Linked DNA regions of Homo sapiens: region 1 is linked to region 2. The links come from fine-mapping of genetic effects on gene expression. A gene starts in region 2. The other region holds a variant in brackets. All regions are shown on one strand. Distances are between the middles of the regions.

Evidence for each region. PIP is the estimated chance that this variant, and not a neighbour inherited with it, causes the effect.
Region 1: its variant is the best candidate, but not a certain one, in a credible set for the expression of AGBL3 in gastroesophageal junction (GTEx, PIP 0.73).

The regions. Positions count from the first base shown.
Region 1 is chr7:134,839,588-134,852,417 of GRCh38, forward strand. It overlaps CALD1 (caldesmon 1), which reads left to right. Exons shown (of 15, transcript NM_033138.4): 2 at 4,297-4,384. LOC124901750 (a long non-coding RNA gene) reads right to left here and starts at 4,297. Exons shown (of 2, transcript XR_007060537.1): 1 at 1-4,297. RefSeq lists an enhancer at 5,418-6,617. The variant T/C (reference allele first, on the strand shown) is at 6,043.
Region 2 is chr7:134,979,223-134,992,052 of GRCh38, forward strand. AGBL3 (AGBL carboxypeptidase 3) reads left to right here and starts at 7,286. Exons shown (of 17, transcript NM_178563.4): 1 at 7,286-7,479; 2 at 8,653-8,774; 3 at 10,028-10,088. The coding sequence starts at 8,712. RefSeq lists enhancers at 7,188-7,487, 7,498-7,637, 7,718-7,977, 12,227-12,276.

The sequences.
Region 1 (12,830 bases), 140 kb before region 2:
TATTCTAGTGGTATGTAGTTTTAGTTCATCATAAGTTTCAATTTGAATTTTTCTAATGATTAATGAGATTGAGCACTTTTTCATACACTTGTTGATCTTTTTGTCTTTTTGTTTTTGTTTTGAGACAAGGTCTCTCTCTGTCCCCAGGCTGGAGTGCAGTGTCACGATCATGGCTTACTGTGGCCTTGACTTCCCTGGCTCAAGAGATCCTCCCACCTTAGCCCCCCATGTAGCTGAGACTACAGGCATGCACCACCACACCTGGCTGATTTATTTTTTAGTTGTTGGCAATTTTAAATATCCTCTTTTGTGAAATGCCTGTTGAAATCATTACTCATTTCTCTATTAGATCATCCATCTTTTTCTTTTTGATGTGTGGAAATTTTTATATATTCTGGATACAAGTTCTTTGTCATCCATATTGCTAATATTTTCTCAATCTATGGCTAGCATCTCCACTCTTTTTATGGTTTTTAGTTTTAATGCAACACAAGTTTTTTTATTTTTATGTCCCATTTACAAAATCTTTGCCTATCCCAAAATCATGGAGATTTTCTTTTTCCTGAAAGCGCAAATGTGTAAGTTTTCACATTTAGATCCACAATCAATCTGAAAGAATTTGGGGGAATGATGCTAAATAGAGGTCAAGTTTTGATTTTCCTTTTTCCATATAGATATTCATTTAGGTGCGGGATGATGTTACTTTTCTACAGACAGGGGTTGTCTTACCTTCTGGTTGTTTTGATAGAGTTGGGAAAGTTCTCTTCAGTTAAATGGGGCTGAGCTGATCTACAACTCATCTTCCATTTTGCAAGACTCCTTCAACCTCTGGTTTGCTCCTTCTCCGTGGCTGAACTCTCCAAGTGTCCTAATGCCTCCAAATTAATTTTGGTTTTGTGGAATATTATCCAGAGTTTCTAGTTATTCTCAATGAAAGCACTGGACTGCCACAAGCTATTCCATTTAGGCAGATACCTACGTCAGTCTAGCTACATTCCACAAACTCATCAACAATCTCCTCCAAAACATTTAAAGAAAAATGTTGTGTAGAACTCAAAAAGGTAAAAGAAAATGTCAGTGTTGGCAGCTATGGCTGCTCCATGTATCCTGTCATGGAAGGAGCTTTGGAATAAAACAAACCTGGGTTTTAATTCTAACTTGTCATTTATTAACTGTGTGACAATGAATCTTACTTCCAAGTGGGGATAATAAAAAACAACTAGTTTCACAGTTTTCTTGTGAAGATTAAATGAAAGAACAGATATCAAATACCTCGCAAATAGTAGGTATTCAATAAATAATAGATATTATTATGTAATATATTATAATTTCTCTTAGAGTTATAAAATGCACTCATCTCTTAGAAATAATAGAGAAGGAGTCGGGATAGGTGGACTTGAAAAGCAACACTCTTCTCTGAGCACCCTGTTAGATGCTGAAAAGGGGGAACTTGGTTGAACTTGTTTTATTCAAAATGATATCAAGGTCATTCACATACACAATACATTTTTTTCGTGGAAAGATGGTAGAAATAAATCATCTGAATTGAGTACTGTGGCAAATCTATTCCAAATGCTTCATTTTATAGATGAAGAAATTGAGTGGTTAAATGACTCGTACAAGGTCAATTCACTTGTTAGTATTTATTTAAATGACCCAAATTCCCTAAGATCATATATTTCTTTTCTTCTAACATACTCCTAGCTCCCATGTTTAACTATAAATGTAAAGCAGAGACAATTAATAATGTGTTATTATTACTAGCTCATTCTAACTAAAACCCATCGATCTATTTTTAAATATTTTATTTTAATTTCCATCCCCACAAATTATGTGACTTCCTGCCAACTATGATTGAAATAGGTACTTGCCATTCCTTTCCCATTTTAAGGATTATGTCCTGTAGCTTTTCATTTTTCTGTCTGTTATTAAGAAATGATCTGCCTTATCCTCTAATGTATGAAAGGAGCTCGTGCAAGCCTGTAGAACACAGCTCTCTTGAAGTCTACCTAGCAAAAAAGGGAGTGGGGAACCTCCATCCCTCTGGGCACTGGATACAAAGGTGATCATGTGCTTCTTTGGCACTTTCATCTCTGGGCAGGGACAGATCCTCATGCTTTCCAGCAAAGGCAGCCCTGTGGGGATCGTTTTTTGGTAAGACCCTGTGTCCAGCACATCTTTCAGCATTGTGTACTCTACGAACAGACATATGAGCCTGAATCCCACATGGACTGAGTAACTTGGAAGTTTCATGATCCCAGAGCACACAGCCATCTCATAAAAGCCTCACACCAGGCTTCTCAAGGGCTCTGCCTGGAACATGCTTCCTTCAGATCTTTACATGGGGGGGCTTCTTCCTAGAAATGTGTTTTTAGCCTAGATGTCTCCTTTTCAGAGAGACTATCCCTCACCATCCAACCTCCAGGGACCCTCAGTGGACCTCTTTACATCCTGCTGTTTTTTATTTGCTCACTCACTATCAGAAATGTATGGTGTCTGAACTCCAGCAGAGTATAAGCTCCATGGAAGCAGAGCCCTTGTACATCACCTTGTGCTGTGTCCTGAAGCAGAGGACTCACTCAGTGAACAAGCAAGTGGGCTCCTGTATCCACCAAATACACCCAGCATGGTGGGTCAGGCCCTGGCTTTGAATACTGGCCTCACCACTAGCTGGGTGAATTCAGGCAAATGACTTCAGCCAAGAAACTTCTCAGTGCTTATCCTAAGATAAGAATATGTATTTTACAAGGTTGTTACAGTCATCAAATGAAATAATGTGTGCAATGTGCTTAGCACAGGGCCTACCACTGAAAAATACTTAACAAACAATAGTTATTATTATTATTTCCATAATGAAAGCAAATCATATTATGAAAAAGTCACAGAGGAATTGTTTTATAAAAATGGTAATGTTGAAATCAGAGACCCTAATTCAACCATGTAAGATAAAATTTTAAATTAATGAAAATCTGGGTCTTCTTGTTAGTTATTTACAATTATTTATTTTTGTAAAGGATCCCTAATTTAACCTTTGCAATGATTCTCTGTTGAAATAAGTTATCATCTCACCCTCTGCTCTTAGTATCCATTTGGAAAATGCCATCTTTCTGAGAATACTTGCAGTAGAAATTTTAAATTAGGATATTAACCATCTCCTGTAAATATATGCTAGCAATGTTTTTCTATTTGTTTAATCTAGAAAGGTGCTAGTTACAGTTTTTCATGCTACTGAATGACTTTAGCTAGAGGTTTCCTGGGGGTTCTAAGAAAATCACTATTCTTAGGGGACTAGAAATCTGATCAAGAGGGAAGAAATTACTTCTTTCTTTTTATTACACCTTGGTTCTCCTATAGTAAATGTTTTCATATAAAACTCATTTCTCCCCATGCCCGAGGAGATGGTTAAATCAAAGGAGCAATAACTAGTGCCTGGCTGTTTGCCACTGGCTGCAATGGGGACTCGGGGAGGAAGACAGGCTCATTTGCCTAACAGGGCCCAGCTCCCTTCCCGTCTTCCTTCATCTTGGGCCTTTTCCTTCCTTACTACCTCCGGTCTAGACTCAGCTTTCCCTGCAGAGACCTTTGGCAACTGCTTCTGAGCCAGGGCAGCCAGCATCTGTGTGTCGGGCACTGCATTAAAAGCTATGGCTTAAAGGGCTCAAGGGAGGAATGGTTCACCCGGGCGTCTATTTGAAGTTGCGAGGTAACTGATGGGAGAGAAAGATCTTAAACAGGGAGTAAGAGCTTTAGCAACTCTCTGGCCCTTAGACCCTAAATCTGAAAATAGAAAGGAAAGAGATTATCTGAAGACAAACTCCACTGTTAGTGACTCTGCCATTCATTTTATGTTTTCTCTTGAAAGCCTTTCTGTCTTTGTCTCACTAACAAGGTAGTTCATGGACATACATAGACACTACAGACCAAAAAAGTTTTCCACTTATAACATTTTCTTCCTTCAGTTTCCCTTTATTCATTCTCAAATTTTGAAATAAAATTACTGAGGGGATTGGGAGCAGTGAAAAAGAAACTTGGCAATTAGATACTATCCCTGGGTTTGTCTTAACTATACCTCCTTCTCCAGAATAATTTATTCAGAATAAATGGATGGACTTTGCGATAACTGTATTTTCCTTAAAATGCAAATGCACAATAGCTATTTCTACCCCTGCCTTACTTCTCCCTTTAGATTCTAACTAACAACAGTACTTGAGGAAGAAATGATATTTGAAAATATATAGTCTGTATTAGCTAAAATTCATTCAACTGAATTATGTTTCCATCCTCCTTTTATTCCAGGTATCATTGGAACATTTCAAGATCATCAAATCAAATTCCACAGGGATTGGTGACCAACCAGAAGGCTCAGACATCTGATTGCTGACCTGTGAGTAAAGTTTATGTTTTATTAATACTTTGGGCTCTGCTCTTAGGAATTACACAGCCTCTGTGCCTGATATTCTAAATTCTTACATCTGAAGATGCACTGTGAGAAACCAGTTTTTCTGCTGTGGCCCTCCTACTTTACTTGCCAGTTAATTAATCAGTTAGAATCTATCAAGTTTTGAAGGATCTATCAAGTCTTTTATCCTGTTTTGTAATCTGATTTTTTTTTTTTGCTTTATTTTTAAATGTTTCCTGCAATGTAATATCTTTCACAAAACAGTCCTGGATCAATCATGAAGTCTTCACTTCCTGTGAAAAATGCTAGTGACTTGAATCAATAAAGACAACATGAGTCAGCCTTCCAAGGTGAATAAGCTCACCTTTGTGCAAACACTGGTGATCTCAGGAGTGCTAAGTACCCCTCACTTTCAACAAATCTCTCTCACCTGGGAGGAAAACTTCTACCAGAACAAGGACCACCTAGGGAGGTGAAAGAGGGGATTTCCACTTTAGAGGATGGAGAAACCAAAGGGCATTTCACTCATTCACAGTTTTGCTGAGCTTGGCTCCAGTAGGTAGAAAAGTTCTTCAGGAGTTCAGCACACCACTCAGGCAATTGTTGTTTCAAAATTCTATCTGTTGCCCCCATGCAAGTTTTCTCAGGCTACCATAGTGAAAATCCACAGACTGGGTGGCTTAAACAACAGAGATTTCTTTTCTCACCATTCTGGAGGGTAGAAGTCTGAGATCAAAGTGTTGGCATGGTGGATTTCTCGAGGCCCTCCTTGCAGATGGCCACCTTCTCCCTGTGTCTTCACGTGGTCCTCTCTCCGGGCACACACCTGTCTGGTGTCTTTCTCTCTGTGCCCAAATTTCCTCTTCTTGTAAAAACACCAGTCATATTGGATTAGGCCCACCCTAAAGACCTCATTTTAACTTAATCACTCTTTGAAGAACTCATCTCCAAATGCGGTTACATTCTGAGATCCTGAAAGTTAGGATTTCAACGTATGAATTTGGGGGAAATACCATTCAGCCCATAATGCTGCCACCATCATTTTCCCTCTCTAATATGCTGACTTTTTGTTTATTGCACGTGGGCTTCCCTCTGTTTCTCCCCTCCTGAACTCTTTTAGCGATTACATTACTCTCAGAGCATCTGCAGTTCTTAGAGTGTATTATAATCATTTGGGTACAGCTCTCATTTCCCTATGACATTCTATAAATTCTGAAATCAGAGAGTGTGCCTTTTACATCTCTCATAGCACTAGAGGAGGTTTTGTATACAGTAGACATTTTGTAATATTTATTAAATGAATGAATGAATGAATGGAAAGAGGATTAGATGCAGCCTCTGAACCTGCAATTTATTTGCTTTAAGACTGTCTCCAAATGATGAGTATTAAAGATGCTTTCTCCTCACTTCCTGCCCCCCAAGACAGGTAGAAATAAGTTAAGGCTGAGGAGAAAAATTGAAAGAAAGGTGTGATTGACTAATAGCAGGAGAGTTACCTTTCTCCCAGAGGTAGGAAATAGTAAATAGCACAAGCATGCCCCAGTTAAGGTGGCCTTTCCACAAGAAAACTGTTCGGGGATCCAAGAGGGACTTACTGAGTTTGAAGCCTGTGGGACATGCAAGGGCATGTGTCTAGAAAACAA[T/C]GCATATGCAGGTCTGAAGGTCAGGTGAGAACCAGAGATGTTCACAGTCACCACCTACAGGCAGGAAGCAGCAGTGTGTCAATGAATGAGGCCACCAAGGAAGACTGTGTAGAGGGAGAGGAGCAGTGGCTTAAAGATTCCATCAGAAATTGTGTATGGAAATTTTTCCTGCTAGATAACAGGAGAAGGACCCGTCCAAGAGGAAGAACACTGCACGATACTTCTAATGAAGCTGTGTGAGAACATGTAGATGAGCTAATGTGTGTGTCTATTTTTTCTCCCCTAGTGTTTTTGGACCTATTTTGTTCCTTCTCTGTCCTGTCTTTTGGGGGCTATGCCCCAAACCATTCCTGTGAGCCTTCTCCTACCCACCTTTGCTCCCTTCTAGCTAACTCCACCTATGGTCATTGTCCAACTCCCCTGCTGCCTGCTCAGGGAATCTTAGACAAACTTCCTTTGGGCCCATTTTCTTCATCAGCCAATCAGAGCTGATCAGAATGGACAGGAGGGGAGGCCAGGATGAGAATCCTTAATGACCAAAGAGACAGAGGCAGGTCGTTTTCAGGGTCAGGTGGCTGTGACGCTATGGTCACAGAGCATCATCTTGTTTAGTCAGTAAAGGCCCCAGATAGGGGTGGAGGGCTGTGCCTCTTTTGCCCTGAACTCCCTCCTTTGTCCATTGTCCCCTGCTGATTGTCCCACTCCACCTGTTCCCCAGAATAAGCTTTGGCAGTATTTTAGGGTTTCCCTGCCAGACCAGAGAGTGGAGGGGCCAGGCCATGGCCCCTGACAGTCATTACCAGCCTCCCCTCTCTAGGCCTCACCATCAAATGTCATTTCTCACGGAGCCATATTTACCCCTGGGCTGAATTTCCCTAATTTGCCCTGCTAGCATGATGCAAATAAAAGGGGTAAAGGTATTTATTCATCTCTCTTTTATTTTCCAAAGTGTTATTTCTTTTCCTTTAAGTTCTCTCCTTGCTTTATGTTTCTTCTCTCTCCCTTAGTTCTCCTTCCTTAGTAGAAACCCTTGAGCTTCAGGGTGATTTTCTGATTATGAGCAGAAGAGGCTATCAGAGATCTGGAAGCCACCTCCTGCATTTCTTTATTCCCCCTCCTCACCCAATTGTTTTAAATGTACATTGAGATACCAGCTTTCTTCAAGAACCCACTTCCACACTTTCCTCTTTGTGTTCTTGGAGTAGCCAGGAAAAAGATGCCCATTTTCTCGAAGGTACCCAAAATGTCAGTGACACTTGGGTCAGTGATTTTATGCAAATTACTAATTATATCAAATGAGAAATGTTGAAAGCAAGAGGAAACCCTTTGCAATCCATGAATGGTCTAGTTGGGGTGTTCCAATGAATGATGGCCAGTGGCCAACATAGGTGCCTCCCGACTGTGTTTCATTAATTTCAGTCAGCTCGTGGGCTTGGAGAGAAAGATCATTTTCCTATGAGCACGTAAAAGAAGTGCTTTGAGTTGTAAGCACTTCGAAGGCTTTGCCCTTGTTTTCGAATGGGAGATTTTATAACCACTGTGGGCCAGTATTTTTGAAGTCAGTCGAAGCTCCAGATGGAGTGGAAAGAGAAGCTTGGGTTTTTATTTTCTTCTTCTTTTCTTGAGTTTTGCAGAATGAGCCTCCCTGGAAACCTTGACAAAGTCCTTAGTCTCCTTTGGTTCAGGTGGGCCCAAGCTTTTTATAGTAGGATCTGAAGGGATCTTTCTTAAACTAAGATTCCTTCCTGTGGGTTTTTAGTAGTGGCTGTAGAACTAGGCTTATATGGGAGAAGGTCTGGAATCCACTCCCTTCCCTGGGAGTCTCCTCTCAAGGAGACCACTCTCAGGGTCCTTGTCATGAGATATGAGAAGAAAAGTCCACAATGAGCCTGGGCATAGTCCAGATTTGGTTAAGGATTGAGGGGACACGAGGTCACAGGTCCCATGGGACTCCCAGCGTTCTGGAAACCTCCATAGTAAAGAGGGTAGAGGACATTCCAACACCACCACGTGCAGCTTTAGTAACCTTGCCCAAATAAACGTGTTTCCCCGGCCAGGGAATTGCACCTGGTCTTAAGAGGCACCTCCATGAAAACACACCTTTCTGCCTGGCATGACCATTGACAGAGAAAGACTGTGCTGAGAAGGGGGATACAGCAGGGAGAAAAACACACAACGGTGCCAGGAGCTCTTGTCTAGAACTCCTTTCCAGGCTTTTTTTCCCCATAAGCGCAAGTGAGTACACAAGTAAAGAGAAAAGAATGATTGTGCTATTTAGCTTTGAACCAAAAACTATCAAGCCTTTCCTAAGGTTCCAACTGGAATAGCATTTGTACAGTTACAGGACACAGACTCAATTGCTTCTGAACTCTGCTTTAGGATGCCTAACAGGATTAAGTTGTGAACATCTCATACCACGCCGTGCAACAGTACTCAAATAGGACTTAAGCAGAACAAACAGTCTGGGGAAAAAAAAAAAGCCCTAAGACATTTTCCTTCCTACTATTCTCTGTATCCCAGGCTCAACTTAATGCCAAATTAAATCTGGATTTTTTTTTAATAGACGTTTCCTAGAGGAAAAGGCAGAGCTGCATTCCCTGAAACATATTTTAGCCCAAACTTATAACTTGGATTTTTTCTTTCCTCCTCCCTTTCGCTAATTCAAAACAAAATGTCCATCACGCACTCTAACACCAGCCTCTAAGAGCTAGAGACAAATGAAGTCTGAATATTCACGCCAATGTGGTACAAATGAGCTGTGATTTCAGGATGCTGGCTGTTTTACTGACAGGGGAAAAGGGCAGTTGACTAGTTTAATATATTTGGCTGAAAACACTTTGCTAAAGAGCAGTGAAGAAGGCCAATGTTAATAATGAATCCTGTTCTTTAATGACCAAATATGATATATCATGGAATGGGGCATCCTGAGTTTGGGGGAAAGCATTTCACCATATCCACAGGATGCAGACGAGAATGAATGCAAACATACTGCATTCATGTTGGGCCCTAATGAAGAAGCTCTTCTAGGAGTATTTTCTCCAAGTTCCTCAAAGAATTCCTCCCATAAGTATATGATACCATGATTTTGAATCTGATTTCACACAGAATTACAAAATTATAAATATAAAGACATTTGTTATTATGAGAGACTCCGGGAATCTAGCTAACTGTCTCCCATTATTGGCTAATGGTTTATAAATTTTAAAATGCAATTATAAGTTGGGGTTGATGAGGGAAGCCTGTGACCACCATTAGCACCTTCCTTAAATATGCATATTCAGTCAGTCGTTAATTCATTCATTCTACAGATATCACTGGATTGGACCTTCTCCATCTCACGTGCCATATTAGTTCTGTGTTACATTTGCAATTCTAGTATTCCTTACCATAAAATGGGCTTTTTTTTAATTAAATGCAATGGAAAATTTTGTGAATCCAATGACGTGTTCAGTGACGTAAATTGTGATTTCTAATACTGTATTTATTTTTCATTGGCTTCGTCTTGGCAAAGGGTCATAATATTTTAAATTTCTCTGCCCTCTCATCCACCTATCACACTTTATTATGCGGTTTATAGGCAAAACACAGGCATGCACTGGCTATATCTGTAAATCTACTTTTCTGCAAATCACTTGAAGGGTAATGCATAATTGCCCCCTACATTATTGTTTCCTAGATTCTAACTTTTGTATAGAATGTTGTTAAAAGCAGATTATAATGTAGTTCCAAGTATGCTGCTTCCTCTGTATCCATAGGGGATTGGTTTCAGGACTCCCGAGGATACCAAAATATACTGATGCTCAGTTCCCTGATATACAATGGCACAGTATTTGCACATAATCTATGCATATCCTATCGTATACTTTAAATCATCTCTACCTCTAACACCTAATAAAATGTAAATGCTATGTAAATCACTGTTATACTGTATTTCCTATTATATTTTTTATTGTTGTATGGTTTTTTTAATTGCGTTGGTTTTTTTTAAAAATATATTTTTCTATCCCTGGTTGATTGAATCTATGGATGCAGAACCCATGGATATGGAGAGCTGATAGTAATTGAATTTAAAAGCAAAATAAGGGTGCTGTGATATTTTTATGAAATGCTCATGAGAATCAAAGATGAGAGACCAGAAGCCAATTTACCGTGAAGTCAGTAGAGTTTAAGCCGCAGGGCCTCTCATGGGGAGAGGTCCCTGCCTCAACACCCCCATGCCTAACTTTTTACATTTACTATTGTATTCTGGTTTTCCAAGAAGGCCTCTCAAATAATCTTCAGGTCCCACAAAACCTGGATCTGCCCTGAAACTGACACAGATATACTGAGATGATTTAGCATCGTGTCTAAAGCTAATTAAGTAAGCAAAGCAAAGAAATGGTCAAAGTGTGAAATGTGATCATTTATTTTTTTAAGGCTTTAAGACAAATTCAGCTTATTTTCTAAAGTGAACCCCACTTAAGTGAAATAATAAATCAGTTTGCCAAGGCACAAGTGAACATAAACAGAAGATTCATTTTTACTTCATTAATAAACATCAAATATGAACGGAACCTAACATCAAGCAGGCCAAGGCCTCCTGCTGACAGGAAACAGCTCCTAGTAAGAGCATTTGTAGAAGAACATAAATCCTTCCAGGCAATCACGTGATCATTTCATCATTGAGGTCCTTGCTACAGTCTACTATGTATTATCCATTTACAGGTCTTGTGAGATGTAACAGAGTGTTGTGATTAAAAGCACACAATCTGGGGCTGAGTTGCCTGGATGTAGACCCCAGCTCTACCACTTACTAGCTATGTGACCTTGGGCCAATGACTCACCTTCTCTGGGCCTCTGTCTTTTCATCTGTAAAATGGAAATAATAAGGATTGTCACAAGGATTTAAACTGATATTATCACAGTTCTTAGAACTGTGCTTGGTACATAGTAAGTGCTACATAACTGTTGTCGAAAGAAATCAACTTATCCATCTAGAATGAAAGCTATATGGGATTGCTTGTGGGTTCACTCTTGCAACTCCTCACAGTGCCTAACATGGCACATGGTCAGCCATCAGTGAAAGACAGCAACCCAGGGCCCATGCTGCCCTGCAAATGTGCTTCCCTTGTCCACCCTTGATGTGGTTTGGCTTTGTGTACCCACTCAAATCTCACCTTGAGTTGTAATATTCCTCATGTGTCATGGGAGGGACCAGGTGGGAAGTAATTGAATCTTGGGAGTGGGTTTTTCCCTGTGTTGTTCTCATGATAGTGAATAAGTCTCACAAGATCTGATGGTTTTATAAAGGGGATTTCCCCCACACATGCTCTCTCTAGCCTGCTGCCATGTAAGACGTCCCTTTGCTCCTCATTCACCTTCCACCATGATTGTGAGGCCTCCCCAGCCACGTGGAACTGTGATTCAATTAAACATCTTTCCTTTATAAATTACCCAGTCTCAGGTATGTCTTTACTAGCAGTGTGAGAATAGACTAATACAAGCATTTTTTTCAAATTTTGAGTCTGAATGCTCATAGGGATGCAGGGATGCATATGTTCTCCATTTTCCCATAAGCTACCACTCCCCAAATAGTTACCTCTTTGGTCCTTTAAGCTATTTGAGTTTGTCATGCCTGATATAAATGAATGATCCCATAATACACGAACACTGCAACAGTTAGTGGCAGTTTTATGGCTCACTGGAGTAAAGAGATGGGCCCATAAGGAAGTGAAATATGAGTCACTTCCACTCCCTGATGCTCTACCTGCAAACAGTGTTCCGGTTAACCTACCTATCCCTGTTTCTAAACTAGAGGTCTCAGAAGGGAAATAGGAAATCAGGAATCTGAGCAAGCACTTGCTTAGAAACAGAGACGAGTACAACCTAATGTCAGAGCTGGCCAAGACTCTATCAGTCATGACAAGCTAGGTTATGCTGGTGTCAGAAACAGCCAAAATCTCAGCAACGTCAAAATGAACGTGTGTTTATCACTCATGCTTTGTCACTAACCCTGGATAGGCAAGGGTTTCTAGTCCACATCACTGTCATCCATGCTTAGCCACCCCTACTGACAATGACTGTCTGGAAATCTTACCAACCATGATGGAGAGAAAAGAGCTCTTTGGAGGGTCTCCTATTGGCAAGTCTACCCCAGAAGTGACATGATACTTCTGCTCAAAACTCATTGGCCAGAATTAGCCACTTGGCCCCAGATGACCACAAGGGGCAAGCACAATACTATAATGTGCCCAGAAGAAGTAAAACAAGAATATGGGGCAAACAGCACAAAGGATCACAGCTGTGACATTATTTGGAACTTGGAGTCTCAGGCCAGAATTCTTAAGCTTTTCAATGAGTTCAACTCAGCAAATATTTCCATTCATAAATAACTGCACAGCAAAGTACTCAGCACTGTGAGGGGATGTCAGAGGAGATGTAGGCCTTGACACTGAGCAGCTTCAGACTTGGTCAAGAGAAAGTGATGGTACAAAACATTTGAACAGCAAGGCCATATAGTATTGATCACCAAGAACAAGGCCAATAATTGCTGTAGAAGCTGAAAGGGAGGGTGGTTCTGGGATAAAGATAGGACTTGAGCTGGACTCTAGAAAAATATAGGGGATTTGCAGGAGTGGAGGGCACTTCAGGTTATGGGCAGCAAGAAGCCAGAGACAAAGGCCCAGAGGCAGAAATGAGGGTGAAATTATTGCAGGATTCAGGAGTTTGGCTTGGCTGTAAGTTGTGTTTGCATGGGAGGGTAGGGTGGGGAGAGGAATCATGTGATGGATAGAGTGGAGCCATTTCAC
Region 2 (12,830 bases):
AACAAAATTGATAGACTGCTAGCAAGATTAATAAAGAAGAAAAGAGAGAAGAATCAAATAGACGCAATAAAAAATGATAAAGGGGATATCACCACTGATCCCACAGAAATACAAACTACCATCAGAGAATACAATAAACACCTCTATGCAAATAAACTAGAAAATCTAGAAAAAATGGATAAATTCCTGGACACATAAACTCTCCCAAGACTAAGCCAGGAAGAAGCTGAATCCCTGACTCGACCAATAACAGGCTCTGAAATTGGGGTAATAATTAATAGCCTACCAACCAAAAAAAGTCCAGGACCAGACGGATTCACAGCTGAATTCTACCAGAGGTACAAAGAGGAGCTGGTACCATTCCTTCTGAAACTATTCCAATCAATGGAAAAAGAGGGAATCTTCCCTAATTCATTTTATGAGGCCAAGATCATCCTGATACGAAAGCCTGGCAGAGACACAAGAAAAAAAGAGAATTTTAGACCAATATCCCTGATTAACATTGATGCAAAAATTCTCAATAAAATACTGGCAAACCGAATCCAGCAGTACACCAATAAGCTTATCCACCATGATCAAGCTGGCTTCATCCCTGGGATGCAAGGCTGGTTCAACATATGCAAATCAATAAACATAATCCATCATATAAATAGAACCAAAGAAAAAAAAACCACACGATTACCTCAATAGATGCAGAAAAGGCCTTTGACAAAATTCAACAGCATTTCATGCTAAAAACTCTCAATAAACTAGGTATTGATGGGATGTATCTCAAAATAATAAGAGCTATTCATGACAAACCCACAGCCAATATCATACTGAATGGGCAAAAACTGGAAGCATTCCCTTTTAAAACTGGCACAAGACAGGGATACCCTCTGCCACCACTGGTATTCAACATAGCGTTGGAAGTTCTGGCCAGGGCAATTAGGCAGGAGAAGGAAATAAAGGGTATTTGGTTTGGAAAGGAGGAAGTCAAATTGTCCCTGTTTGCAGATGATGTGATTCTATGGTTAGAAAACCCCATCATCTCAGCCCAAAATCTCCTTAAGCTGATAGGCAACTTCAGCAAAGTCTCAGGATACAAAATCAATGTGCAAAAATCAAAAGCATTCTTATACAGCAATAACAGACAAACAGAGAGCCAAATCGTGAGTGAACTCCCATTCACAATTGCTTCAAAGAGAATAAAATACCTAGGAATCCAACCTACTAGGGACGTGAACGACCTCTTCAAGGAAAACTACAAACCACTGCTCAACGAAACAAAAGAGGACACTAACAAATGGAAGAACATTCCATGCTCATGGACAGGAAGAATCAATATCATGAAAATGGCCATACTGCCCAAGGTAATTTATAGATTCAATACCATCCCCATCAAGCTGCCAATGACTTTCTTCACAGAATTGGAAAAAACTACTTTAAAGGTCATATGGAACTAAAAAAAAGCCTGCATTGCCAAGCCAATCCTAAGCAAAAAGAACAAACCTGGAAGCATCACACTACCTGACTTCAAACTATACTACAAGGCTACAGTAACCAAAATAGCATGGTACTGGTACCAAAACAGAGATATAGACCAACGGAACAGAACAGAGCCCTCAGAAATAATACCACACATCTACAACCATCTGATCTTTGACAAACCTGACAAAAACAAGAAATGAGGAAAGGATTCCCTATTTAATAAATGGTGCTGGGAAGACTGGCTAGCCATATGTAGAAATCTGAAACTGGATCCCTTCCTTACACCTTATACAAAAATTAATTCAAGATGGATTAAATACTTAAATGTCAGACCTAAAACCATAAAAACCCTAAAAGAAAACCTAGGCAATACCATTCAGGACATAGCCATGGGCAAGGACTTCATGACTAAAACACCAAAAGCAATGGCAACAAAAGCCAAAATAGACAAATGGGATCTAATTAAACTAAAGAGCTTCTGCAAAGTGAAAAAAACTACCATCAGAGTGAACAGGCAACCTACAGAATGGGAGAAAATTTTTGCAATCTAGTCATCTGACAAAGGGCTAATATCCAGAATCTACAAAGAACTTAAACAAATTTATAAGAAAAAAATCAAACAACCCCATCAAAAAGTGGGTGAAGGATATGAACAGACACTTCTCAAAAGAAGACATTTACGCAGCCAACAGACACATGAAAAAATGCTCATCATCACTGGTCATCAGAGAAATGCAAATCAAACCACAGTGAGATACCATCTCATACCAGTTAGAATGGCGATCATTAAAAAATCAGGAAACAACAGGGGCTGGAGAGGATGTGGAGAAATAGGAACACTTTTACACTGTTGGTGGGACTGTAAACTAGTTCAACCATTGTGGAAGTCAATGTGGCGATTCCTCAGGGATCTAGAATTAGAAATACCATTTGACCCAGAGATCCCATTATTGGGTATACACCCAAAGGATTATACATCATGCTACTATAAAAACACATGCACACATATGTTTATTGTGGCACTATCTACAAGAGCAAAGACTTGGAATCAACCCAGATGTCCATCAATGATAGACTGGATTAAGAAAATATGGCACATATACACCATGGAATACTATGCAGCCATAAAAAAGAATGAGTTCATGTCCTTTGTGGGTACATGGATGAAGCTGGAAACCATCATTCTGAGCAAATTATCGCAAGGACAGAAAACCGAACACCACATGTTCTCACTCATAGATGGGAATTGAACAATGAGAACACTTGGACACTGGGCGGGGAACATCACACACTGGGGCCTATCCTGGGGTGGGGGGAGGAGGGAGAGATGGCATTAACAGAAATACCTATTGTAAATGACCAGTTAATGGGTGCAGCACATCAACATGGCACAGGTATACATGTGTAACAAACCTGCACGTTGTGCACATGTACCCTTGAACTTGAAGTATAATTTAAAAAAATGAACTTCTTAATGCCAAATCGAATGCCAAATACCAGAAGCAAATCTCAAATATCAAAATGATACTGTTTTAGTAGCTGAAAAGTTACCAACTCTAGCCAACATGCCCTCAGCCGGAAAGGGAATTTCACCATTGCACAGTTAGGGCAGTTTTTTGGGGGAAAAAAGACAATTTCATGTTTGTTGTCATGGGATTTCACACTGAGTCTCGGAACCATTCGTTCTCTTTTGAGATGATTTATCCTATCTATTATCTGTTGAGCAGGCAGGAGGCATTCTTACTAACTCATTTCCAAATACTAAGGGCAACGATAGCTTCACTGTAGCCCCCAAATACAGACAATTAATTCTGCCAATGACAAAGTAATTAGAAAAGACATCATCAAGTGAATGATGCTTAAGCTGAGTGTTGGCTAGTTGACTGGCTGAGACAGATCTCAAGATTTGAGCTTGGGAACAGTTTAAGAGGTTTGGCCCTGTATTAGGTCATCCTAGACCCAGATAGTATGAAGAAGGCCAAGATAATTACTAGACTATCCCAGGCTTCCCAGGCCCTACTATGGCTTCCTCAGTCGAATTACAAGACCTCTAAGGTCACTTGACTACTGAGTTCTATGATGTCATAAGTAACTGATTGCGCTAGTCACTTCATATACTCATTTAAGCCCCTCTCAATTGTCAACCTAAATAACAGAGACAGGCTCTCTAAAAGATGTTTATTTGGGAATGGAACATTGCAATGGGAATATGCATGTCATAGTAAACTATGTGTGTAGTCAGGGAGGTAAAGGAAGATAAAGATTTTTAAAAGAAAAAAAGGAAGATTACATACTGGTTTTTTAAATGATTACCCTTAGCCACAAAGATCAATAACAAGAGTGATGCCAGTCTGAGGTTAGCCAGGCAGTTGCTTAGCCAATGTCCTTGTAGAAGTATCTTTTGTGTAAGGTTATGATGGCCCTTGTGTAACGTTATGGTTGTTATGGAGTCTTTTTCATTATCAAGCAAACAAATGTGAGGACTCTTCTTTCATGGCCTTCCCCAGCTCTGTTTGTCAGAGTTTTCTTAACTTTCATGACTCTATTTTCATTCTGATCAAAATGATATAATTCCACAAAATTATACTCCTAACACAACTTATCTTTGGCCATCCTGCTGAAACGAACTTTCTTCCTGATTCCCACACAAGTAATTGTGCTTTTTGGCACAGTTGGCACTTAGAGTTTTGGTTGTCTTTTCCTCTTTTCTTACTCTATTTTTTATTATATTGCCTTTTAGACTGCAGTCTTAGAGTAAACTCACACACACACACAAAAAAGGAGAAAAAGTTGCCACAAGGGTAAAGCTGTCTTCCCAAAAGGCAGAAGCTGTCTATAGAAGGAACATGTCCAGTAACTTTCTTTGGTGAGATTATAGGGAAGGGGAACAAAAATTCAGACAAAGTCCTTGGTAGAAGTTTATTCTAGGCCTTACTTCCAATATTAACTTAAAGACAAAGAATTTCATTTCCAGTACATAGTACTGTCTTTAATAGGAGAGTAAGTTAAAAAGAAAGAGTTAAAAAAAAAAAGCAGAAGCTTAATCAAACCATTTCAATTTTACTTGGGGAAGAAAAAAATCCCTGTGAAATCTCATACCTTAAAATGATACTGATTCCAGCTAAGCTTTGGCTAAACAGTACTGCTTAGTATACAGCTGATCCCTGAAAAATACGAGTCTGAACTATGTAGGTCCAAGTATACAGGGATTTTCTTCCACCTCTGCCACCCCTGAGACAGCAACTCCACTACACTCCAACCTGGGTAACAGAGCTGTCTTTAAAAAGAAAAAAATTGTTAATAAAATAACCCTTCCTCTTCCTCTTCTTCCTCCTCTTCCTCAGCCTACTCAATGTGAAGACAAGGATGAAGACCATTATGATGAATGACTTACATTTAATGAATACACTTTCTCTTCCTTATAACTTTCTTAATAACATTTCATCTTACTTTGTTGTAAGAATACAGTATATAACACATATAACATACAAAATATGTGCTAATCAACTGTTTATGTCATCAGTAAGGGTTCCAGTCAACAGTAGGCTCTCAGTAGTTAAGTTTCTGGGGAGTCAAAAGTTATATGCAGATTTTCAACTATGTAGAGGACGATACCCCTAACCCCCGAGTTGTTCAAGGCTCAACTGTAGTTCATAACACAGACTTCTCAGTCTATGTACTTGCTGCTTACCCTGCCTGGCAGAGTCTCCCCCTAAGACATCCTACAGTTCATCCCTCTGCTCAAATGCCCCCTAGCCAGAGAGGCCTTCCCTGGCCATTCCATCTAAAAGAGTAACCTAGCAAGGCCCCCCACTCCCAGCATCCCCTATTCTTTTTTTTCCCCCCTACTTGATTTCTCTCCATAGCGGTTATTGTCTGAGTGATATCATTTTTATTATCATCATTGGTTTGTTTGATTACTCCCACCAGAACATAACCTCCACAATAAATGTCTGGTTTTTTTCCTTGCAATAGTGAACTGTCCCTAGTAGGCAGCAGCCATCCAGTGAATTTGTTATACCAAGGCATGAGGATCTCTTGGGACCAGTAGTTTGAGTCTGCAGTGAGCTATGATTGTGCCTCTACACCCCAACCTGGGTGACAGAGCTGTCTTTAAAAAGAAAAAAGTTGTTAATAAAATAATGAATGAATATCATTTTCAAAGTTTTGCCAAGTTCCTAAGTTTTTGGCCAGGCACGGTGACTCACACCTGTAATCCCAGTACTTTGGGAGGCTGAGGTAGACGGATCACTTGACACCAGGAGTTTGAGACCACACTGGCCAACATGGTGACACCACGTCTCTACTAAAAAATACAAAAATTAGTGGTGGCACGTGCCTGTAGTCCCAGCTAGTCAGGATGCATGAGAATCACCTGAACCCCAAAGGCAGAGGTTGCAGTGAGCTGAGATTGCACCACAGCACTCCAGCCTGGGCGACAGAGCAAGTGAGATTCTGTCTCAAAAAAAAAAAAAAAATCCTAAGTTTTTAAAATTATGCATTAAGATCATTTTTCTTCCCATGGACTACTTGGTATGTGATAATATAACTATTTGGACTAAAAATCACGAGACTTAAGTCTCTCAGCCCTGCCATTAATTTCTTATATAACCTGGTTAGACCATTTCTCAGTTTTACCTTGTACAGCTGACATCCTATGGCTTGCAGCCATGACTAAAATCCAACAGAAAAACAGATTACATAAATAAAGATTTCTCTGTGCATGTCACCTTTAGTGATTTATGTATGGCATAAAACAAGCTTCAACTATAAGAGCTACTTTTCAAGAGGTTGATCTAAGATATACTCTATTAATATTCTCTGGCCAAGGTCTAATCTGGAAGGTTCATACTTTTAAACTGCTGACCTCAAAAACACCTATTTTCAGATACTTACAAAATACAAAGAGATTATGTTAACCCATTTCCATGCTTAAGCCATAGTGCTTTGCCCTTTATTCTACTTTCAAACTTGCTACCATTTATTATCTCCATTTCTACAATATCACGAATCTCATGACATATAACGCTTTGTGAAAAGTGTTTATTTACATTCTTATATCATCAAAATCTAGACTTTTTTTCAGCTGTACTTGGAAAACTTTTCCAAATAGATTACCTTACCCTGTAGAGCTAAAGATGAGGGAAAAAATCAATATGGGATGTTCATGAATAACGTCTGTTAACTAAATGAGACTACATATAGTGATTTGCAGTCATCAGGAAAACAGTGTTAAATATGCTAGCTGACGATTGCTATAAAGAATCTCTGAGCTGATAATTTTGAGAATTCACCCTAGTTCATCTATGACTCTCCATTTAGTATTTAAGGAGAAAAGCCTCATTTTCCAGAATCGAATAAGCGAATTAATCGCACAATTGTGTAGAATGGAACTCAGTCTGTAAAAAATCAAGACCAACGTACTTTTTAATATTCTAACATCTCCAAGTAGTAGTTACAAGTATTGTACCCATGAAGTCCAGGTAATTAATTTGTTCAATGTCACACTGTTAAAAGTCAGGTGGGCTCCAAAGCACAGTCCTAACCAGCATGCTCTACTGCCTCCTCTGAGGCAACAGCCGAAGTGCAGACCACTGGGAATAAATAGCTGCCCGGTCTTCCCCACTCCTAAATTCTCCCGACAGACCCCAAAGCCTCTCTGAGAGCCTCTCTGACCGCCCTGCGGCCCACCCCGAGTTCCCGGCATCCTCTGGGATCCCTCTTCCTGGAGCCAAAACCTACGCAGGCTCCTTTCCTCCGAGCTGGTTGCTAGGTGATCTCCGAAGGCTGTCCGAAGTCTCGCGAGGGCGGACCCGTTGCCTGATGACGAGAGTTGGGAGTGTGGCTGGGGCTGCGGATCTCCAGCAGTGGCGTTACTTCTAGCGGCTGGATACCGGGTTCTCCGCGAGATCGCGAGATCCCGAGATATTCTCCCCGCACGGAAGCGACGACTGGCCTGGCCAGAGGACTCGCGTGGGAGCGAGGTGCCGGCCCCGACAGGACGGTGAGGTATGCAGAAGTAAGGCGGGGCGCCCCCTGCGGGAAGCGAGCGCGCCCCGGAAAATGAGCGCCTCCCCACACCAAGGTGTCCAGGAGTGAGTGCGGGAAGGAACTCGGCCGCCCGGAGTTGTGGCCTCATCGTGCTTCCCGCCAAAAACGCCTTGGTACTGTCGGGACGCGGCTAAGCGTGGACGCGCCCGCATCTGCCCCTCCTCCGCAGTGGTGGAAGACACCCGCGGAGCGCCGGTGGATAAGGGCCGTTTCCTGAGACCAGAGCTGTATCCGCAGCAGGTCAGCACTTCGTGCGCCCTGTGTGCACCTGTAAGGAATGGAATTTAGGCCAGTCGGATTTTCCAAATGTGGAGTTGTGATGCCCAGGCAGAAACTTCAGTTTCTTAGGACTGAAGGTGTCATCTATGAGACAGTCGGTTCCGTGGCATTGGCAGTGATTTGCCATAGAGCTTGGACTTAACTTATATGTAGTCCACGCTCCAAAACACGCTTCCTGTAGAGAGGGGCGTAAACTAATAGATTTGAAATTGTCGAGTCCTTTGGTCTCTCAAGAACGATGGGAACTTGACAAGAAATTTCGATTATTCCCTGGTCTTGATATTACCCACATGGGAAGATACTTGCATAGAATGGTAATGGTCATTACCAATACAACCTTCTGGTAGCTATTTAGATTTCTAAGAATAAGAATAATATAAATGAATATTAGAACAGACAGTATCTACAGAATAATAATCAAAATGTAAAGTCTTGTCACTTGAACTTTTGGTCAAGTGAAAATCAAGGAGAAAACTTAAAATTATATTGCTACATTTCAGTAAGTGACTATAATTTTTAAATTCATTATCTTTTAATGCCTCAGGATCATTCTGAACTTGCTGTGTAGTATTTAATTGTAAATATAAAATGTGAATGATTTGGCTGTATACTCTGGAAATTCCTTTTAATTAAATGATTTGCTTGATTTGTCTTATTGTGGTTGTTGTCTCGTATAGTCATGGAAAATTCCTTTAACTCTTTGAAATTGAAGGTTTTATTAGTTGTATTCTAATTAGTTTTTAGAGAAGACTGTTGTGACTGTTAAATACAATTGAATATATTTTTGAGTACTCATTTAATGTAGTAAACACCTACAGCTTGAAAAGAAAAGCTGTCATATAATTTCCTTAGAAATTGTTTTACAGCCTACCCGTATATTACAAGAAATCTCAAGTCAAACACTGGAAAAGATGTCAGAAGATTCAGAAAAGGAAGACTATTCAGACAGAACAATCAGTGATGAAGATGAATCGGTATGTTTTTCTCAACTTTATTTTACTTGGAGATAAAATTTGTATTATATAAATCCCCAATTAAAATATTATAAAATCAATTGGATATAAAAATCAATTGGATGTTTAAATTATTGTCATTGAAGTTGGGAAATAATTTGGCTGAAAAAGCTAAGCTATCACTGGGAACACTATGCCCTGTCTAGAAAGAGAAACTATATTTGTATTTTTTTTGAGAAAATATTTTAGCTAAGATTCTTCTAGGTTTTATTAAAATTTGTATATGAAATTATTAGTAGGGTTTTAGTTTTAGGATTGATGTCCACTTATTTTCTTCTATGTGCTGATTGGATTGTGTTACATCGTAGTATGAATCATAGTAGAACCACCGTGTTCTAACCTTATTGTGTATCACCATAACAGTTTATTGTGGCTCTGATGTCATAAAGGAAGAGACATGGAAGAAGAAAAAGGGGGAAAAACGTAGTATTTAAAATTCTTTAGTCTTTTTCTACTACATAGGCTGCGAGATTTCCTTCAAATTTTATTAAAGTATAAATTATGTATGTAAACTAATGTCCCGAAATAAGCTCTTAAAGCTTACTTTAGCTATTTAAAGGATTTATGGCTTTCTGTGTTTTTCTTTTTGTTAATTTAATTTTTTTTTTTTTCTTGAGCCAGAGTTTGAGATCGCTCTTGTTGCTCAAGCTGGAGTGCAATGGCGCGATCTCGGCTCACTGCAACCTCTGCCTCCTGGGTTCAAACGATTCTGCCTCAGCCACCCGAGTAGCTGGGATTACAGGCATGTGCCACCATGCCTGGCTAATTTTTTTTGTATTTTTAGTAGAAACGGGGTTTCACCATGTTAGCCAGGCTGGTCTCAAACTTCTGACCTCAGGTGATCCACCCGCCTTGGCCTCCCAAAGTGCTGGGATTACAGGCATGAGCCGCCACGCCCGGCCAATTTTATTCTTAATTTAAATAGTTTTCCCGGGTTTATCAAGAATCTTTAAACTTTATTCCTTCCATAAAGTCATTATTATGACCACACCCAGTGGAAGAGGAGGAATGAAAGATGCAAACTTTAAGGTTTCAGGATATTTGAAGTGTTGGGTGCATTGAGACCAGTAGCTGATAATAATCCTTTAATTTTCTCGTTTATTAAAGGTTAAAGACATATACTCAATCCCAAGTACTAAAATAGATGTAAAAAAATTCTGGATTTGAAAACTGTTGGTTTTTAAAAGAGAAATATTTTTAAATTCTTATTTTAGGATGAGGATATGTTCATGAAATTTGTAAGTGAAGATCTTCATCGGTGTGCACTTTTAACAGGTTTGAACCTATTCATATAGTTTTTGTTTAGCATAAAACTTTGAATGGATAAAAAAGAAGATGAGGAAACTAAAAAGTCAGATTGAATAATATAGGGAATGATTATTCTAGTAGATTGTGAAAGAGAACTGTATCTACTTGCAGAGTTCAAACTTTTCAGGTTTGTTTTAGGTAAGCCTATTTTATATTAGAAAATAATAAATGAAAGTGGTGATTATCTTATATTTAACATAAGGATTTACCTTGTCATTTGTTTAAATGTATTGACTGTATGACTCAAGTTATAACGGACAGATTATGTTAGAAGTACATCTTCATTTAAACGAAGTACATTGTCTAAAGAGTCTCATTAATAAAGTCATTCATTTGCAACTGAACATGTGTGTGGACATCTTGATGTATACTTAATTTTTAAAGATTTATACTTAGAATTGTACTTTCAAACTCTAAGATATCTCTACTAAATATTTACATATGTGTCACAAATACTCTGAAATTGGAGTTAAGGCCTTTATCTTTTTTTTTTTCTTTTGTCTTTTGCCACCATCCTAAAATAAATCTTCCTGTTTGAAATAACCACCATTCTTAGTTTGGTGTGTATCATTCTAGAACTTCTTTGCATATACACATATCTATACCCATAGGCATAGAAATTTTATAGTACTGTTTTGTGGACATTTCCCTGCTACCCTTTTCTGTTTTTTAAATTTTGCCAAGCTATTAGAAAACAGGAGATAACTCACTCCTTTAACTAGCATTTCTGGGATTGCTAGAAAAATTGAGAATTACTTCTATAGGCTTATTATCTACTCATATTCTTAGTTGGTCTGAATTGCCCATTTATACTAATCCCTTTATGTTGCTTCCTTTGTTTAGAACATTACCAAAAGCAAGATGTAAAACATTTAATCACCCCTAAGTGTTCCTGTGTCTCTGCAGTAGATCCTCTCCTTCCAGGCTTCACCCCTGGCTCCAGGCAACCAGTGATTTGCGTTCCCTCCCCTATATTTGGCTTTTCTAGAATTTCACAAAACAGAATCATACATTTTGTGTTTTCTGTCTTCTTTCATTTAGCATAATACTCTTGAGATTTATCCATGTTGTTGCATATATCAGTAGTTCCTTTTTATTGTTGAGAGGTATTCCATTATGTGAATAGATCAAAATTTCTCCATTTAGCCATCCATTCATGCTCATTTAAATTATTTTCAGTTTGGGGCTGTAACAAATAAAGCTCCTATGAATATTTTTGTACAAGTCCTTGTGTGAACATGTTTTTGTTTCTCATGGGTAAATCCCTAGGAATAGTATTATTGGGTTATATGCTAACTATATACTGTATGAGAAACTGTATCTGTTTTCTAAAGTGGCTATATCCTTTTGCATTCCCAGCAATGTGTTATTTCTTCGCCAATAATTCTTAGGTTTTAATTCAGTACAAGTGTGCTTTTCCCTTACCTCATGGAGCATAATTGTAATGACTCCTTTAAAGTTCTTGTCTGATAGTTTTAACATCTGGGTTATCTTGATGTTAACATTTGTTGATTGCCTTTTGCCCTGAGAACTGGTCCTACTCCTGGTTTTCCATTATTCATGCTATGCTGTGTAGATTCTGGGTCAGTGTATTTCTTCTAGCAGGCAATCAATCCAGTTAGGTTGAAGCAATAAGTTCTGGTGCCCCTTCTGTGGATAATTCAGATCTCAGTTCTGATCTGTAAGCCTTTGCTATGCTTATTTGGTTCTTTCCCATGCCAGTGTAGTTCAGGGGTTTTGAGACTTGTATAGATGGTTCAAAGTCCTGTTTAGTTCTCTTAAGTTTTCCTTGTATTGGTTTGGGACTATCTTGCACATGTGTAATTCAGGGATTGAGCTGAGACATTTGTGTGTGGGTGGGGGGGGGGTTGGTTAAAATTTCAGTTAAGTTTTCATAGTCTCTGAGAGTGTGTCTGCTTGCATAGCTCAGGGATTAGGATGAGACTTTTGTGCACTCATACACAGGATTAGGAGATACCTTTCTCTGGTTGCTTTCTTCCCTTCAGATTCCCTCCACACTGTAAGGACCCCTTTTCCTGGGTCTTCTGTTAAGAAAGACTGGGTTTCTGATTTGGAGAAGGAATTTTTTTTGTTTGTTTTCTTGTATGTGTACATATTGTCATTTCTTAGTCTAGGCCAGAATTTCTCAACCTCTACACTACTGACCACCCCACCATGTTCTCCCATGACATCCTGTATATGCCTGCATGGTTGCCCTTGCCATATCATATCACCTAACCCTTCCTTCTTTCTGTCTGTACTGAGAACGCCTTGATCTCAGAGGCTGTCTTATCAATGTTTGTATCTCTTCCAAGCACTGGGTCTGGCACATAGTAGGTAATCACTAAATAGGATATTATCATTGTTAGGGTGGTGTGACTAAATTATTCTGCTCAAGAGAAAAAGAAAAGGCTACTCTCAAGCATTTTGGAATCAAACATTTATAATAAAAAATAACTCCAAACTTTAGTAAACAGAAAAAAAAAAAGACTCAGTTTCTATCTGAGATTTAGCCATTTGCACCACCACACTTCTCTGTGCATGAGGCCTGCCATTCAGCAGGCCAGAGCAAACAAGGGGCTGGACTCACCTTCCTGTGGGGGTGCTTCTCTAAGTATTAACTCTACAGTCTGCTCTTGTTTACTTTTCAAATTCTTCAGATAGTTATGTTTTTGTATTTTATCTAGAGTTTAGTTGGAATTAGTGAGA